Regions from separate parts of the Homo sapiens genome. Here regions 2 and 3 are each linked to region 1. Evidence: fine-mapped expression QTL. A gene starts in region 1. Each other region holds a variant in brackets. All regions are shown on one strand. Distances are between the middles of the regions.

What was found. PIP is the estimated chance that this variant, and not a neighbour inherited with it, causes the effect. A credible set is the group of variants that fine-mapping cannot tell apart.
Region 2: its variant is the best candidate, but not a certain one, in a credible set for the expression of LINC01819 in whole blood (INTERVAL, PIP 0.52).
Region 3: its variant is the best candidate, but not a certain one, in a credible set for the expression of LINC01819 in whole blood (TOPMed, PIP 0.51).

What each region holds. Positions count from the first base shown.
Region 1 is chr2:43,036,994-43,042,977 of GRCh38, forward strand. It overlaps LINC01819 (long intergenic non-protein coding RNA 1819), which reads right to left and starts at 2,550. Exons shown (of 6, transcript NR_110585.1): 1 at 2,127-2,550. RefSeq lists enhancers at 4,010-4,952, 4,953-5,894, 4,957-5,251, 5,895-5,984.
Region 2 is chr2:43,371,273-43,377,256 of GRCh38, forward strand. All of the region lies in intron 29 of THADA (THADA armadillo repeat containing), which reads right to left. Among named protein-coding and RNA genes, the nearest start is that of LINC01126, 150 kb to the left of the region's middle. The variant G/A (reference allele first, on the strand shown) is at 2,584.
Region 3 is chr2:43,090,584-43,096,567 of GRCh38, forward strand. All of the region lies in intron 2 of LOC107985876, which reads right to left. It also overlaps the pseudogene RNU6-242P. Among named protein-coding and RNA genes, the nearest start is that of LINC02580, 8.9 kb to the right of the region's middle. The variant C/T (reference allele first, on the strand shown) is at 2,952.

The sequences.
Region 1 (5,984 bases):
CTGGTCTGATCTTCCCAGGTTTCTTAGCTGTGCTTGTTAAAAGAAGCGAAAGACTGGGTTTCGGCCAGGTGTGGTGGCTCGCGCCTGTAATCCCAGCACTTTGGGAAGCCAAGATGGGCAGGTCACTTGAAGCCAGGAGTTCAAGACCAGCCTGGCCAACCCAGTAAAAATACAAAAAATTAGCCTGGTGTCGTGGCACATACCTGTAATCCCAGCTACTCAGGAGGCTGAAGCATAAGAATTGTTTGAACCTGGGAGGTGGAGATTGCAGTGAGCCGAGATCACGCCACTGTACTCCAGCCTGGGTGACAGAGTGAGACTCGGTCTCAAACAACCACCAAGGCTGGGTTTCTAGCTATGTTTGGCCCACAGAATTAAAAAAGTGGTGGCATCCCTGGGGCCCAGCCAGAAAGAAGCCGTGGGAATGAAGAAAAGTGACCCAAAGAGGAGAGTGCACAGAGGGAGGTGGAGTGAGGGCTGACTGAGCCAGCTGTCTCTCCTACCCAGGAATTCTTCCTGAGCTAAATCTCGGAGATTCTGGTTTGTAAAGTAATAGCTCTCCTTATATTTGTCTATTGTGTAAGTGCATGATTATGCTAAAAAAATTAAAAATTCAAATAAGGAAAACCAAAATAAAAACAAAGAAAAAGAAGCAATCTAAAATTACCCCTTAGCTCACCACTCGTCAATGTTTTATTGTATATCCTTCCAACGTTTTTCATAAATCAATGCTTTATTATTTATTTATTTATTTTTTTGAGACGGAGTTTCACTATTGCCCAGGCTGGAGTGCAATGGTGCAATCTCGGCTCACTGCAACCTCCGCCTCCCGGGTTCAAGCAACTATCCTGCCTTAGCCTCCTGAGTAGCTGGGATTACAGGCATGTGCCACCACGCCTGGCTAATTTTGTATTTTTCAGTAGAGATGAGGTTTCTCCATATTGGTCAGGCTGGTCTCGAATTCCCTACCTCAGGTGATCTGCCTGCCTCGGCCTCCGAAAGTACTGGGATTACAGGCATGAGCCACTGCGCCCAGCCCAATCAATGATTTAAAAATCAGATTATTTTATATACATCTCAGCTTTGTATTATTCTGTTCGTTATGCTATCTGCTTATTTCTATGTCATTAGATGCTCTTCTACATCATTTTTAAAGGCTCAATTGTGTTTTGTTTTCTGGATGTTTCACAATGTATTTAACCCATGCCCCATTTTTGGACATTTAGGTTGCTTCCGGTTTTTCAGGCTTAGAAGTCACAGTGAAGGACAACTTTGTGGCTAAATCTTTGAATGACCACCTATGTATATTCCCTGGAATAAGTCCCAGAAATAGACTCCCTGAAAGAAAGGACACTAGGGTTCGTTTCCATCCCTGGGCAGATCCCGAGGAAGGCTGGGTTGTTCTGGAGGTCTTGGCGCTGGGCCCTGCACTCCAAGCTTCAGGGCCTCCCAGACCCTTAGTGCACGTTCCACTACACTAAATCACCCCGCCCCTCCTCTCCCCACTCTGCCCCAGGCTTTGGACTCACCCAGGAGAATGAATTACACCTCCCAGCCGGACGTGAGGCCATTTGTCTTGTGCTCTGGAATCCTGATTAGATAAAATCTGAACAGAGCACATTTACTTATTTAGTGTATTTCTGGGTGGGTGGGTCCTAGCCCTTGGGGATCACCTTCTCCAGATCAGGGTGAAGAGTTTACAGAAGGGAGGAGCAGGTCACATATCCAGAGCAACCAGCTCAGGCATTCACCCTGCGGGGTCACAGGAACCCCACCGTCCCCAGCTCAGGCCCACTCCACTCCAGCTCCAATCTCCCCAGTCCTGCCTCCCCGCCTCCAGCTCAGGAAGCTTTAGGCGTTGGTTGCTCATCATATGGCTGAGGCTGGCAGAAAGAAGGACTAGGTGCCCAGTGATGTGGCCACATCGCACCTCTGGCGGGAAGTGGACTCTCTCCGACCCCCCTTGGGGGCTCTGGTGGCCTCTGCGGGACCTCGGGTTGTCTGAGCACACGCACCCTCGCCCTCTCTGGGACCTGATGCCTCGATTTAGGCTCAGACCCTGTAAATGCCCCTTGAGAGCCCTCAAGGATCCAGGGTTCTCTTGTCCTCAAAGAAGCAGAACATACCTGCTCACCAGCCTGCAGCTTGTCCTGTGTGTCCCGTCTCCTCAAGTACGGAGAGGCCAGGGCTTCCTGAATCTCATCAGATCCGAATCTCCCCAGATCTCATCAGGGCCTCTTCCCAGGAGACACCAACTCTCAAGGTCTGGAGACACACCTGGAACCTGTATTTTCCCAAATGGTCCTCCTGGCTCTTCCCACAGAACTGTCTTCTTGTCCCTGGTCTCCACTGATGGGGAACAAGGCATGTGACCCCCTGGGTCGGGCAGGCCCAAGGCAGGCGAGGCAGTGAGAAGCAGGCGAGGGGATAGGGCTGCTTGCTCAGGTAACTTGGGTTCAGGAGGTTTGGCAGCCGAGCTGCCTCTCCTGGCAGCGGGGCTTGGCCAAGGGCAATGTGCAGCCACACAAAGCCATCCTCACAAAGCCACCCTCACAGCCTCTCTGGCCGAGAGTCCCTGGGCGCTCACTTGCCGGGATGCACAGGCACGCCTCTGGCCAGGCCGGGCTGCGGGGGTTTGTGGCCTGGAGAATCAAAGAGCCGCCCTCAGCTCGGAGAACACTTCCTCTAGAAGGCTCTGGTAACAGCACACCGGGTCTGAGGAGAAAGAGCCTCTGTGGGCCACGGTGGGTCTTTGCCCACAGAGGCTCACACACCACCCCTCCTGTTCCAACACCACCCCCTGCCCGGCCCCAGTTCTCCTACCAGCCCAGGGGACTCAGGTGGGCCAGACCTTTTCACACTGCCCCTCCCACACACACCACAGCAAGAGGGTGAGCCTCCCTCTTTCTCTGCCGGGGTCTCTGGGGCCTCCCACGACGGGGGTGGGTGGTGCCATAAGCCCTGGGTGCCTGTGGGCGGTGGTCCCACGGATGCCCTGCTCAGTTCCAGACATAGTTGTTATTTGGACTTTTCACATCAAAGTAATTAATTAAATATGCAATAGAATACATTCTCTTCCTCAGTCAGTGGCAACCCCATCCCTTCATTCACTGAGGCCGAAACCTTGGATAGCCGTCCTGGAGTTTTTCAGACCCATGTCCAAACCACTGGAGCATCTTGTCAGCAGGATTCCAACTTCTTCCAGAGCCCACCCGCCTCTCACCACCTCTCTGTCATTTCCCACCTGGATGATTACAACAGTCCCTGTCGAGGCCCTGGCCCCACCACGCCACCAGTGGGGAGAATGCTTCCTCTAGAAGGCTCTGGTGGATTTGGGTGATGAGGGGGAGAGGGGTAGTCCCGGGCCAAGCCACACCAGTGACCCCACGTGTGTTCAGAACCCTCCTGTCTACATTTGATTTCATCTTGGCTACTCTTGTCAAGACATGCAGTTTGTTAGTCTTGAGCAAGTAAGAGTCCTTATTTGTATGCCCTCACATGTTATCACAAATCCCCCAGATTCTTTTTCAGATCTCATGCCCTAATTTGGGGTTTATGAAATCTACCATGCTGATAGGGATTCCTGTCTGTCATGGGGACTTTGAGCCATGACTCAGAACAAGACACTTATCAATCTGGGGCCTCTCCGAAGATGCTGAGACCAGGGCCAGTCTCAGCTGCAACGCCCTGCTTGGAAGCCACTATGGGATGATTCTGCAACAGATATCATGATGCAACAGATGCCCATGAATGACATGGGAAAGCTGGGCCCCATCGCCCAGGGGGACACTCCTGCTGTGCTCTGTCAGCAGGAGGGAGCCTCCTAGGAACTTCATCAGGACCCATTCTTTCTCTTTTTCTTTTCTTTTTTTTTTTTTTTTTTTGTGAGACGGAGTCTCACTCTGTCACCCAGGCTGGAGTGCAGTGGCTCAATCTTGGCTTACTGCAACGTCCGCCTCCTGGGTTCAAGCGATTCTTTTGACTCAGCCTCCTGAGTAGCTGGGATTACAGGCATGCACTGCCATGCCTGGCTAATTTTTGTATTTTTAGTAGAGACAAGGTTTCACCATGTCGGCCAGGCTGGTCTCAAACTCCTGACTTCAAGTTGTCCTCCCACCTTGGCCTCCCAAAGTGCTGGGATTACAGGCGTGAACCACTGCGCTTGGCCAGGACCCATCTTTGTGTGGGATCCCTGGCTCAGTGCTAGGACAGAAACAGGTTTTCCTTGGACTCTGTGGTGTGTGCTTGAGTGTATGTGGGTGAGTGTGTGTGTGATAACGCACCCTGCCCTGCCTTTCCCTCCCCACTCCTCCAACCTGGAGGTGACAGTCACAGGGCCCAGCCCCTCCCTGCCACCTTCCTGCCCCAGCCCCATCTCCATTCAGGGGCAAGTCCTGCTGTGGTGCTTAGAGTGCAGCTCTTTCAGGCTTTCCTTTCGCTTAGCCTTGATTTCCAGGCCACCATGATCAGACTGGGCTCCCAGGCAGCATCGGAGCATCCCCAAATCCAGGGCTGGGAGGAGCCAGGCCATCTTGTCCAAGTAAGGACTTGAAGTTCAGAGAGGAGAAGGCACCAAGCTTGTGTCACCCGCAGGTCCATGCAGAAGGGAGATTAGAACCCAGATCTGCTTTTCAGCCCAGGCCAGGCCTGCTACAAAAGGGCGGGAGGGGGCACCCAGGCTGAGGTGCTGGAATTAGCAGTTCTCTTTACCCTCAAATTAGCCCTGAGGCTGGCCCAAGCCCCTCCCTGCCAGCGTGCCCCTCTGTCTTCAGGAGCCCCCAGTGCCTGCCAGGGGCTTCTCCCCTTTTGCCAGCTTGCATCCATCCCCCACGGTTCCGTCTCTTGGCTGCTGCTTTTACAGGCTCCAAGCAGTGGGGAGGCTGATGGGGAGAGGGGGTCTGTGTTGGACTCAGCCAGACTTACTTCCAGCCAGTCCTCTTGCCCTCCCCTCCACAGACTGCCTAGAGACCAGGGAGCTCTCCCAACCCCACCCCTCGCCCCACTGCCACAGCTCTGACTCAGCCCATAAATTACCTAGGAATGGTCCGCTGACTCAGCCAGGAAGCCCAGAGCCCCCTTCCCCACCCTCAGGCCTCAACCCCACAGCTGGCTTTCATTCCAGAGTACTTGGCCCCCTCCCCTCAGGAAATTCCTGGAAAATATCAGGCTTCTTGGAGGGGAGATCTAACCACAGCCCCGGCAGGGAGCAAAGCCGCTGCAGCCTCATCCATCATTCTGCCCCTGCCCCTCCTCCAGCAGCTTGTGTGTTGCATGGGACTGAGCATGGAAGTGTCAGACCCCATAAAGTGATGGGTGCATGGCTCTGAGGGGAACTCCGGGGAGGGAGGAGAGAGGTGAGGCTGGCATGGGGTAGGGCAGTCAGGGCAGGCTGCTGGGAGGTGGAGGACTTTGTTTTGGGCCAGAAACGATGATAAAAACTGCTAAGTGCAGAAATGGAAAGCGTGCTTCAGGCCCAGGGGATGGCATAAGAAAAGGCTAGAGGTAGAAACCAACCGGTGTGTAGGGGGATGGGGAGGAAATTTGAGAATAAGCAGGGCTAGGCCAGTCGCGGTGGCTCATGCTTGTAATCCCAGCACTTTGGGAGGCCGAGGCAGGTGGATCACCTGAGGTCAGGAGTTCGAGACCAGCCTGGCCTACATGGCAAAACCCTGTCTCTTCTAAAAATACAAAAATTAGCCGGGCGTGGTGGCACACGCTTGTAATCCCAGCTGCTTGGGAGGCTGAGGCAGGAGAATTGCTTGAACCGGGGAAGCGGAGGTTGCAGTGAGCCGAGATTGTGCCACTGCACTCCAGCCTGGGTGACACAGCAAGACTCTGTCTAAAAACAAAACAAAACAAACAAACAAACAAAAAACAAAAACAGAATAAGGTCTAGAGGAGTGGCCGGACCGGAGAACCTGGGCTGATCAGGCCAGAGGGCCGGGGCCGGGGCCAGGCTGTGGAATTTGCAGGAAGTCTCCAAA
Region 2 (5,984 bases), 330 kb after region 1:
CACTCCTAATGCAAAAATTTTTTAAAAGTAGCAATACAACTTGAAGTTCCAAATCTGAAATGTATAGCTTGATGAGTTTTTACATATGTCTAATGACATATTATAACATTCTTTTGCAATGGTGGTTAAATGGTAGAATTTCTACACTGATTAGAATGTTAATAGTAGATACTGATTTTTCATAATATAAGAAAGAGCAATGCTCAGTTTTTGTTGAGAGGGGAATGAACTTTCACAAGTAAATTGTCTCTTTATGTTAAACAATATTCAGTAAGAAAGTGCTCTTATAAAAATAAAGACAAAGAAAAAAAACAAAACATGCATTCTTTTCTTTTTCACAAAGGGGAGAGATCACTGACTTGATTTTCAAACTCTTTGATTCTTTTGTTAACTCACCCCTGAATGCATCAACTCCTTGGCAAACAAAATAAATTAAACCTTCACAGTTTCTTCAACTAAAACTATTTTGCTGTCCATGGACTGAATTACTTTGGTCTGTTTGCCAAACCTCCACACGCAATTTGGCCACTTAATTGCTTAGAGGGTCCGCTATTTCCCTTTTCTGGTGCACTAAAAAAAAAAATCACTTGCCATTTTAGCAGCTAGGTTTATGTGCTAACTTTCCCCACTGTTTAAATATCTACTCCCCAAGTCAGTGATGGATTATAAAACCCAGGCCCCAGGATATTCACCTCATGCTGGATTTCTGATGGTTGGGATAACTCGTTCCTGGGCGTTGAGTTTTTGTCATCATTCATCCAAACATATTCTCCCATCTTTGGGCTGCCTGTTGTCACCTCCTCACAATATAAACTTCTTTCTTAGTAGTCTCCAAAGACTGTGTGGTCAGCTAAACAATTTTTAAACATCAGTGGCAAATGTCTAAGAACGTGCATACAACAAACTAACTGGGAAAAGACTAATCTGAACACACGAGAAATCTATTCAAACAAAAAATAAGTTTTAAAGAGCTGCTAGTTTTATTACTTAAATATGATGAGTAATGTGAACTAAAACACACAAGTACTGTTTCTGTTCTGAACCTGATACATTCAGAGGACACATTAATAATAAACATCACGGAGGAAGGTACATTTTTGTAGTACATGTGTCAGAATTACACAAATAAAACAAAACCCTAAAATAGTGAAATTCAAATTAATGAGATTTCTTCTTTATTCTAGAAAAATCTCACTCTTTTTTAATGATGAAGTGACAGGTGAAGTGGCCATTAAACTTGGAGTTCTAGGGTCAGGAGTTTCTAACCCCTCTGGGAACTTTGCATTGCAGAGTGTGAAGGTCCTCAAATCCCCACCCACTCAACACAGCCAACAGAGGGGGTTTCTACAACATGAGTTTTCTTGTTCTGCTATGCAGCATGCCTGTTTCATGTCACCAAAAAGGAAACAGGCCATATAAACTGCATTTCAAAGTGGCTCGACTTCCATTGTGACAAGTGTAGAGCATTAGTCTAATAAGTATTTATTTATTTTTTGAGACAGATTCTCACTCTGTCACTTAGGCTACAGTGCAGTGGCGCGGTCTCAATCTCCGCAGTAGCTGGGGTTACAGGTGTGCGCCACCACACCTTCGCTAATTTTTTGTATCTTTAGTAGAGACGAGGTTTCACTATGTTAGCCAGGCTGCTCTTGGACTCCTGGCCTCAAGTGATCTGCCCAAAGTGCAGGGATTACAGGCATGAGCCACCACGCCCAGCCAAGTCTAGTAAGTATTTAAACTCTCCATTGGAATACCCCCCCAAAAAACTTATTTCTAATGCTACCAATAGGAAAACAAAGAGGAAAAAAAGAAAAGAAAATACTATCACCATCACACCCTTTGAATTACTCAAAAACAGCATTACTCTTATTCATTCATTTAACAAACATGTATTGGGTGTTTAAGGTTAAATGTTAGGGGAGTGTACAAAATAATGACAAGTTTACATGTTTATTTAAAATACAATATATAACACACAGTTTAAATCATAAATGATGTTCAAGAATTAAAACAAAAAGCCCAACATTTTCACTATCTCTATGAAAACTGTCAACTTTAAAAGACTACTAGAACTGCTTATTCTCTTGATGCAAGTTATTATTGGCATCCAATAATTTCTATTTTCTGTCTAAAATAATTTGTGTTAGTACATGACTAGGTTCTCTTAAGGAAAAAAATTAATAGCTTGTAATAAATCTCAGTTGTTAACTTTTTTTTTTTTGAGACAGGGTCTCACTCTGTCTCCCAGGCTTGGAGTACAGTGGCACGATTTTGGCTCACTGCAACCTCCACCTCCCGGGTTCAAGCGATTCTCCTACCTCAGCCTCCCAAGTAGCTGGGATTACAGGTGCACACCATCAGGCCTGGCTAATTTTTGTATTTTTAGTAGAGATGGGGTTTCACCATGTTGGCCAGGCTGGTCTCGAACTCCTTGGCCTCATGTGATCTGTCCACCTCGGCCTCCCAAAGTGCTAGGATTACAGGCATGAGCCAATGAGCCTGCCCAAGTCTAATAAGTATTTAAACTCTCTATTGGAATACACCAGGAAAACTCATTTCTAATATTACCAACAGATGTTCTTT[G/A]TATTGATCACAACATCTTTCTAGTTCCCTTATTAATTAATGAGTTAAATAAAATCTTACATGCATGTTCATTTTATATTTGCCTGAGAGTGATTTTACCTTTATGAAATTATACTTTAACAATGTCAGTTTTCCCCAAATTGCTTGACAGATGCAACACAATCTCAATCAAAAAACATTTCATTGATCCTTACTATTTATTGTTGCACATCAATTTTGGAATTTTGGAATTACACTATCAAGTGAAAGTTTAAAAAGTTAAAATTTTTATTGGACATGCATTAAGCCTATGTTTGGAGAAAACTGACATCTTTATAATATTCAGCCCAATCAAAAACATGTAATATTCTTGGGGAAAGCCCAAGAGAATCAACGGAAAACATATTAGTGCACAAAAGATCTTTACAAATAATACAGCAAATGAGAGTTAGGTGACACGGTACAGTATGGTACTGAAGTTAGGAATACAGGTTCTGAACTCTGGATCTGCCACTTTCTAGCTATATGAGCCTCAGTTTCTTCACTGTAAAATAGTATTCACTTTCTAGAACCGTTATGAGGATTCAATCAGCAAATATATGTAAGTGCATCTAAGTGTTTGACCCAGAGTTAGTGCAATAGAAGTGAGGACTAATAGTATTATTACAAAGCAAATATACAGAAGTCAATCATTTTCAAAAGTAAAATAGCACTATCAAAAGATATAACCAATAAAAGTACCCACTGATAACAGCAATAAGAAATATTTTTAAAATGCATTCTATACGAAGGAACCTTTAAAATGTAATGCTGTTGATGACATATAAGGATACAAACAAATGGAATGGCATAAACCACTAAATAACACATAATTAAATATGTTATATATAGTTAATAAGTTAACATATTAGTTTAGTGTGATCCTAATTTTAAAAATGACAATAAAAGGTAGGCGACTATACAAATTGATTTAAAGTTCATAAAATATTGAAAAAATAATACTGAAGGGGAATTAGTCTACACCAAATTGTAAAACACATATTGTAAAGCTACTATGAGCAACTGGTGTATGAATAAACAAATTGTTCAAAGGAAAAGACCAAAAATCTGGAAAATAAGAGCAACTATATACTGAAACTCAGTGTATGACAAAGACAGCTTTCAGTCTGGGGAGGTAAGATTTATTTTCTAATAAATGGTCGTGGACCAAAAAGAAAAAAAAAACCAGAAAAACTATGCAAATGATAGTTACCATTTATTAAGAAACTATATCATGCCAGCCACTATACTGGGAATTTGTACATGTAACATCTCTATTCCTTACAGCATCGTTGCCAATTATGCGTTATTATTTTGCAGATGGGTAAGCTTCAGTTCAGAGTTTAAGTGACTTGCCCTAGCAAGTATCTAGAAAATGGGGAAAGAGAATATCAAGTCCAGGACTGTCTGCCTGGATCCAAAACTTCTTTCTATTATATCATCCTCTAGCCACCACATAATCCAGTTTGTCAATGAAACTATCAATGGAGCAATAAACACTGCAAGATCACAAACTGTATACCAAGTAGGAATGAAGTAAGTATAATATAACACAGTATTTTCTCTCTATTCTTCTTAATTTTAAAATGATAAGTATACTTGGGGTCCCTGTCTGATTTATACTTCATCATTGTAGCTTCTTAGCTTTTCAATTACTGGATGACATCTAAGATGAATGCACCTTACACAAAATTCTTTCCAAAAGAGTAGCGTTAAAGTGAAGCTAGCATGCACTTCAAAATAATTTTACACAGAGGAAAATTTTGTAAATGTTTTCTTTTTCTAAATACAAGGTCACAATTTTAGGAAACTGAAAAATCTGTAGGCCAAAAGAATATAACGCTGGTTATTCTGACTTTCCTCTGCTGGGCAGTAAACCTCCTGAACTTCTATTTTTGAAAACTGAGGTATCCCTTTAATCTTGTTACAGAACTGCTGACAGTGTTAAGACAGCAAAGGAAAATCAGCCCAGGGCCTGCACTATGAAGGTCTCCAAGAAAAGGAATAAAACAAAGCACAAACATGCAAAAGCATTTTGCAAGAGAATTTCGTGAAATCAGTGTCAGTGTTCACAACCCAACACAAGAAACACCACCCACCTGCAAGCTGTTTCAGACTAAAAGGGGCCCCTGAAGCCAGATAAACATTGTGAAACCCTCAGAGCCAATATTTACAGCATGGTTAAAGTTGTACCTGTAGAAAACAGAACATCCCTCCTCTCTGGCCTCTCCAAGGATTCTACACATAACCAGTAATGCTCTCTTCTATTTTATTAGGTGTATATAAAGATACAGTTCAGAATGTACATGGCTTCCCCTGTCTTACTACATTCAGACAGTCAAGACACAAGGACACTCTGCTGTATGCACTCCTGAAGTAATACCCTCTTTATGATTATTTGTTTTCTACAAACACCTAAGACAATTGAGCCAACATTTTTAAAACAGAGAACCATCTGCTCTTCAAAAAATGGTCTCCATTTGGCTTAAGTCATTTTCAAAACTTTCTTTAATTCTATAGCTGAAAATACACAGAAGCAATGTCCCTTTCCCAAACTACATGTGATGTTAGAGATTTACTAGGATGCCCTCAGACAACGATAAAGATCTGTATTCTAAACATTCCGTCTCAGTTACTGAAGGCCACATGTTAAATGAATGAAGCCTATTTCTGTCTCACTTAGAAGCAAAACACTTAACACCTGCTTGGAATCAACAGCAAAGACTCTTACTAGGTTTCTGAGCCCCAAATACCACACTCGAATTAAGTCAAATGTCAGTAATGACTGACATTCAGAAGGGCTTCGCAGAGGCTCTGGCAACCTAGATACATTACAACACACTTATCTCTACCCATCACTACTCTGAGGCAAACAAAATCTGTTTCTTTATGTGAGATGACTAGAAAGTAGGGTGGCCTAGAATGAGTTTGTCCAGGGAATTAAGATTCATGGGGTCTGGCTCCTAAATGACTGTGTGACTTCATATGCAGCCAACATTTCAAGAGCCCCTACTATGTGCTGGAGCCAGTGTCAGACACTGGGAGTTTTAAGTGGTGAGTAAGGCACGGTCCTCAGCCTCAAAAAATTCAGGTCACCTCCTCAGGTCTGTTTTCCCATTCATGGAGTACACGGCTCACAGGCCACCCACAGGTTTAAAATTCTATGACTCAACACGACCTATTCTTGGGCAGAACATAGCCCCGGGAGTGGCACAATATCGTGGAAAGAGAAGGCGGCTGTGGGGAGTTGGGATAAACAATAGCATCTCCTCTGAGCTACCTGTGGAGGAGTCTGCAAATGCCTTTGGCAAAATTATAAATTGTTTAGAATTGTTTAGAGTTTAGATAACGGTCCTTTCCTACTTGAATAATTAATATGCTCT
Region 3 (5,984 bases), 54 kb after region 1:
CAGTTCTACTGCCTGGGAATGATTCTTTGTGGCTTTTGGCTCTGTTCTCTAGATTCTTGGTTCCACCTTCTGAATCATCCTTCTTTCTCTATAAAAAATGGCTGGTGATATGGTTTGGCTATGTCCCACCCAAATCTCATCTTGAATTTCCACGTGTTGTGGGAGGGACCTGGTGGGAGGTAATTGAATCATGGGGGCAAGTCTTTCCCGTGCTGTTCTTGTGATAGTGAATAAGACTCACGAGATCTGATGGTTTTAAAAAAAGAAGCACAAGCTCATCTTCTCTTTGCCTGCCACCATCCACGTAAAATGTGACTTGCTCCTCGTTGCCTTCTGCCATGATTGTGAGGCTTCCCCAGCCATGTGGAACTGTAAGTCCAATTAAACTTCTTTCTTTTGTAAATTGCCCAGTCTCAGGTATGTCTTTATCAGCAGTGTGAAAACAGACCAATACACCTGGTGTTTCCAACTGAGTAGTTTTCAGCTTGTTTCCTTCCCATAGAATTTTGGGGGTCCAAAAGCCTTTTTTCATTTCACACTATTCTGACCCTTTTTGCCCAAGCTGGTGGTGCTTCTGACAAAATAATTCTATTAAAAACTGTGTGGGTTTCCCATGAATCCTATTGGGGCTCACTCTGTTAGTCAAAAGCTATAACCAAACATTTCATCAAGAAAACATTCTCTACATTCTCAATGTGAGGCTGGTGTAAAACGATTTACTTAAGATACTTAGAAGCCCTGTTGTTTAATGAAGAGGATCTGTGAGGCACACTCTTTTTCATTTTATTTTTAATTTGTTTTTATTTTAATATGAAGTGCTTCATGAATTTGCATGTCATCCTTGCACAGGGGCCATGCTAATCTTTTCTGTATTGTTCCAATTTTAGTATACGTGCTGCTGAAGCGAGCACTGAGGCACACTCTTGAAATACTTAGAGGGCCTTTGTCTATTCAAAATATTTTATGAAGCCTTAGATATTTCTGAGATTTTAACAAAGGTTCTTATAGTCCCACTCTGGGTTTTATCTTTGTCCTGAAGCCCTTTCATACTTTGAGAATCTTTTGCCATCTGGGAGGCTGAGAATGAAAAGCAGATTTATTTTCAAATCCAGCAAGCCCCTGGCTCTTGTATATGTTTTATAAATTTTGCTTGAAAGTTAAAGCTTCCTTTTAACTCATCTTTCTCTGTCTTTATCATATACAGCTAAAATAATCCAACTAGCATTTTCTAATCCAACTAGCATTTTCAACAGTCTGCTTAAAAATTGTTTTAGCCCAAACCATTAGTTCATTAGGCATATTTTCTTTTTCATTTTTCTTTTTTTTCTTTTTTTTTTTGAGACAGAGTCTTACTCTGTCACCCAGGCTGGAGGGCAGTGGCACAGTCTCAGCTCACTGCAACCTCTGCCCTCTGGGCTCAAGCGATTCTGCAGCTTCGGCCTCCCGAGTAGCTGGGATTACAAGCATGAGCCACCAAGCCCAGCTAATTTTTGTATTTTTAGTAGGGACAGGATTTCTCCGTGTTGGCCAGGCTGGTCTCGAACTCCTGACCTCATGTGATCTGCCCACCTCGGCCTCCCAAAGTGCTGGGGTTAGAGGTGTGAGCCACCGTGCCCAGCCTTCATTAGGCACATTTTCTATTGCTCACATAGCTTCAAGTGACAATGTTACTAACTTTCTTCCACCACGTAATAAGGGTTTGTCCCCTTTCCTCCTGCTTCTAATAAAAATTTCTCACTTTCCTTTAAGCCCTCACCAGCAACTTCCTTGAGAACTATCAGACTTCCATCAACAATATCCTCAAAGTCCTTACAATCTCTACCCATCTCCCAGTCCTAAAGCCACATGACTTAGGTTCTGTGATGGCAGCATTCCGTTTCTAGGTTATAGAAAAGTCTGCATCAGCTATCTATTGCATGATAAGAAACCATCCCCAAACAGTGGTCTTAAGACAACAACAATCATTTATTTTGTTCCTGAAATTTGAGGGTTGACAGAGACTAAGCTAGGCAGTTCTCACTCAGGGTGTCTCATGAGTTTGCAGTCAATTGGTGGCTGGGGCTGAGGTCAGCTCAAATGCTGGGGTCTAGACTAGGAGGTTCACACTGCTTGGGGCTGGATGGCTGGAACTCCTCAGGAATCTCTCACTTTAAATGCAGTCCCTCTACAAGGCAGCCTCAGGGTAGCTGAGTTTCTTTCACAGCAGCTGAAGCCTCCCGACATGAGTGTCCCTAAAGGAATCATCAGAAGCTGCAGGGTCTTTTCTAACCTAGCCTTGGAAATCACACAGTGTCACTTTTGCCACATTCTATTTGTCTAGGCACTCCCACATTTCCACCCAGGTTCAAAGGGAGGGGACATAGGCTCCACTTCTTGATGGAAAGAGAGTCAAAGGATTGTGTACACGTTTTAAAACACACAAATGTTTAAGTAATATGTCCAAGGCCAAATAGCTGGAAAGTGACAGAGTTGAGGTTTGAACCCAGGCATTCTGATTCTAGACTCACATTCTCAACTGCTAGTCTACACTGCCTCCTGTAAGTTGTAGACACAAATGGTCTACATGATGCAGAAGTTGGGGAGACAGGGGTTCCCTGGCTTGGGAAAGTTACTGTCTTGCTTTTCTGTACTCACCTTCCTTTCAGAAAGGTAGTAGGACTCATATTACCTTCTTCTGGGGTGGAGTGGCTTCCTGACTGTAAAATGAATGAACAAATCAGAGCTGGAGCAGCCTCCTCTCAAGGAATTATCTCTTCCTTGAGATCATTTTCTTCCCATGGCCATCAGTGCCTTGACTGGTTTCCATGTCACTCTCATTGTGGCCTTCAGACACCTCCTTGTCATCTGTTCCTGTGATCTTGCTCTTAACTTCTCACCACTAGTTTTTTAGTTTTTTTCACAGGGGGATGGAAGAGTACCCTTTGGCATTTCTTTCTTTCTTTCTTTTTTTT[C/T]TTTTTTTTTTGAAATGGAGTCTTGCTCTGTCACCCAGGCTGGAGTGCAGTGGTGCAATCTTGGCTCACAGCAACCTCCGCCTCCTGGGCTCAAGTGATTCTCCTGCCTCAGCCTCCCGAGTAGCTGGGACTGCAGGCGCGCACCACCATGTCCAGCTAATTCTTTGTATTTTAGTAGAGATGGGGTTTCACCACATTACCCAGGCTGGTCTTGAACTCCTGAGCTCAGGCAATCTGCCCACATTGGCCTCCCAAAGTGCTAGGATTACAGGCGTGAGCCACCACCCCTGGCCTATCCTTTGACATTTCAAGAATGTCTGCCAGCCTGTTTGGAGGAAGGCATCCTTTCAAGCCTGAAGATCATTCATCAGAAGATGAGGCTTCTGTGGACTTTATCAGGCCAGAGAGTTTTTCTACATTTCCTTTAAGTCTTGACTTTGAGCAGGTTTGACTTTTAACATCTTTGTCATGAGCCTTAAAGTCCAGAATAGGACTTGCATGATAGTCCATGTCCCGTGAATCTTGTCTGGAATAGCCCTTCATATTCTGAACAATGCCTAGCTGCAGAAGACAGATCATCCCAAAAGCACATGGTGGACAGGTGTAAGGCCGCCATAAATGGGGATGTCATCTGTGCAATGCACAAAAGGGCTGGGCCAAGGAAGTGAGCAGAGTATGGCCTGAAACCCAGCCCGTGCTCCACTGGCCAAACCTTCCACCCTCGTTAGAGGCTGTGTCCGCCTGAAGGAAAGAACAGCTTTTTCTTGCTTGTCCACCCAGAGTCAGGCATCTTTTTCTAACTCAATAAAGATACCATATGTATTAACAGCAGCACCAGGGGAAGGTGAGAAGACAAAAATATAGTAACCTACTCCATAGGACAAGTAATAGAAATCAACCCTGACAAATCACAATAATATGACAAAATTCACAATAATGAATAAAACATTACAACTACAGTCAAATCCCTGCCCCAAGCCCTTCTCTCTCCCACTCACACAGATATGAGTGCCATCCTAAAGTCGGTGGCATCATTTCTAAGAGTGATTTTGGTTTTGACCTTTTGTTTGGCCCTAAATTTCAAGAAAAGGTTGAACAATTGAGCCTCAGGAAAGGATGTAAGCATCTGGAGTCAATGCATCTCCTCACCAGAACATTCCCATTAAAGCAACCACATTCCCACAGCTCCCTGTCTCTGCCCCAGTTCAGAATTCCAGAATCTTGAGACAGATAATCTGATTGGCCCAGCTTTGACCCTCTATACCAATCAGCTATGGCTAGGGCCAACAGGAGTCATAGAATATAGCATCTATACCATAGACAACTGCTCAGCCCCCTTGCCATGCGTGTCAGGTTGGTGCCCAGAGAAAAAGCCCTAATTGTGAGACTTCCAGCCCTCCAAGAATTCCTAGAGCAGTGCAGTACGATTGTCTAGGATTTGTGATCTTCCCAAAAAGTCCTGGGAAGTTGATCTGACCCAACAAGTGAGAACAAAATGCTCCTATAGCTCTTTAGCCATTTCATTTCACCCTACAGACAGCAGGCAGTGACATTTTCCATTTTCCACATTTTTCCAAAGATCTTATTTATTAATGCTTTTAGCATCAATAAAAAGTCAAATTCTTCATATTCTTCTCCTTATTAAGACTGTGTCATCGGGTATGGTGGCTCATGCCTGTAATCCCAGCACTTTGGGAGGCTGAGGTGGGTGGATCACTTGAGGTCAGGAGTTCAAGACCACTTGGCCACATGATGAAACTCCGTCTCTACTAAAACTACAAAAATTAGCCGGGCATGGTGGTGCATGCCTGTAATCCCAGCTACTCGGGAGGCTGAGGCAAGAGAATTCCTTGAACCCAGGAGGCAGAGGTTGCAGTAAGCCGAGATTGAGCCGAATGCACTCCAGCCTGGGTGACAGAGTGAGACTCCGTCTCAAAAAAAAAAAAAAAAAAAAGAAAAAGACTGTGTCACAGAAGACTAGAGCATTCAGCTCTGTAAAACTGTTCAGAGGCCAACCTAGCAACAGAAATGAATTCTACTTTGGGAGGCCAAGGCAGGAGGATTACATGAGGCCAGGAGTTCAAGACAGTCTGGGCAACATAGCAAAACCCTGTCACTACAAAAATAATTTAAAATTTAGCCAGGGCCAGGCACAGTGGCTCACATCTGTAATCCCACTTAGGGAGAACAAGAAGGGAGGATCACTTGAGTCCAGAAGTTTGAGATCAGCCTGGGCAACATAGCAAGACCCCATCTCTATTCAATAATTTAAAAAAAAAAAAAATTAGCCAAGCGTGGTGGCATACAAGACTGTAGTCCCACCAACTTGGGAGGCTAAGGCAGAAGGATTGCTTGAGTGATCCCTGTCTCAAAACAAAAAAAAAAAAAAGAAAGAAAGAAATGAATTTTGACAAAAGCCACAAAATTAGTTTGTAGTGTCTTGATTGGCAACCTCTTAAAATATTTTTTAAAATTATGATATACAGTCATGAACCACATAATGATGTTTCAGTCAACAAAGCATTGCATATACAACAGTACTCTCATAAGACTACGATACCACATTTCTACTGTACCTTTTCTATGTTTAGATACACAAATACTTGCCATCGTATTACACTTGTCTTCATTATTCAGTACAGTAACATGGAGTATGGGTTTGCAGCCTTCAAGCAATAGGCTAGACCATATAGTCTAAGTTATATAGTCAGCTATTCCATCCTAAGTTTGTGTAAGTACACTCGATAATGTTCACACAATAACAAAACTGCTTAACAACGTATCTCTAAGAACTTATTCCCCATCATTAACTCATGCATGACTGTATTTAAAATGTACACAAAATGGTTTAACAGAAACCCTCATAGCCTCTCCCCAGATTCAACAGATATTAACATTTTGTTTCAGATTATCTTATCTTTTTTAAAGGAATAAAACATTACAGCTACAGTCAAATCCCTGCCCCAAACCCTTCTCTCTCCCACTCACACAGATATGAGTGCCATCCTAAAGTCAGTGGCATCATTTCTAAGA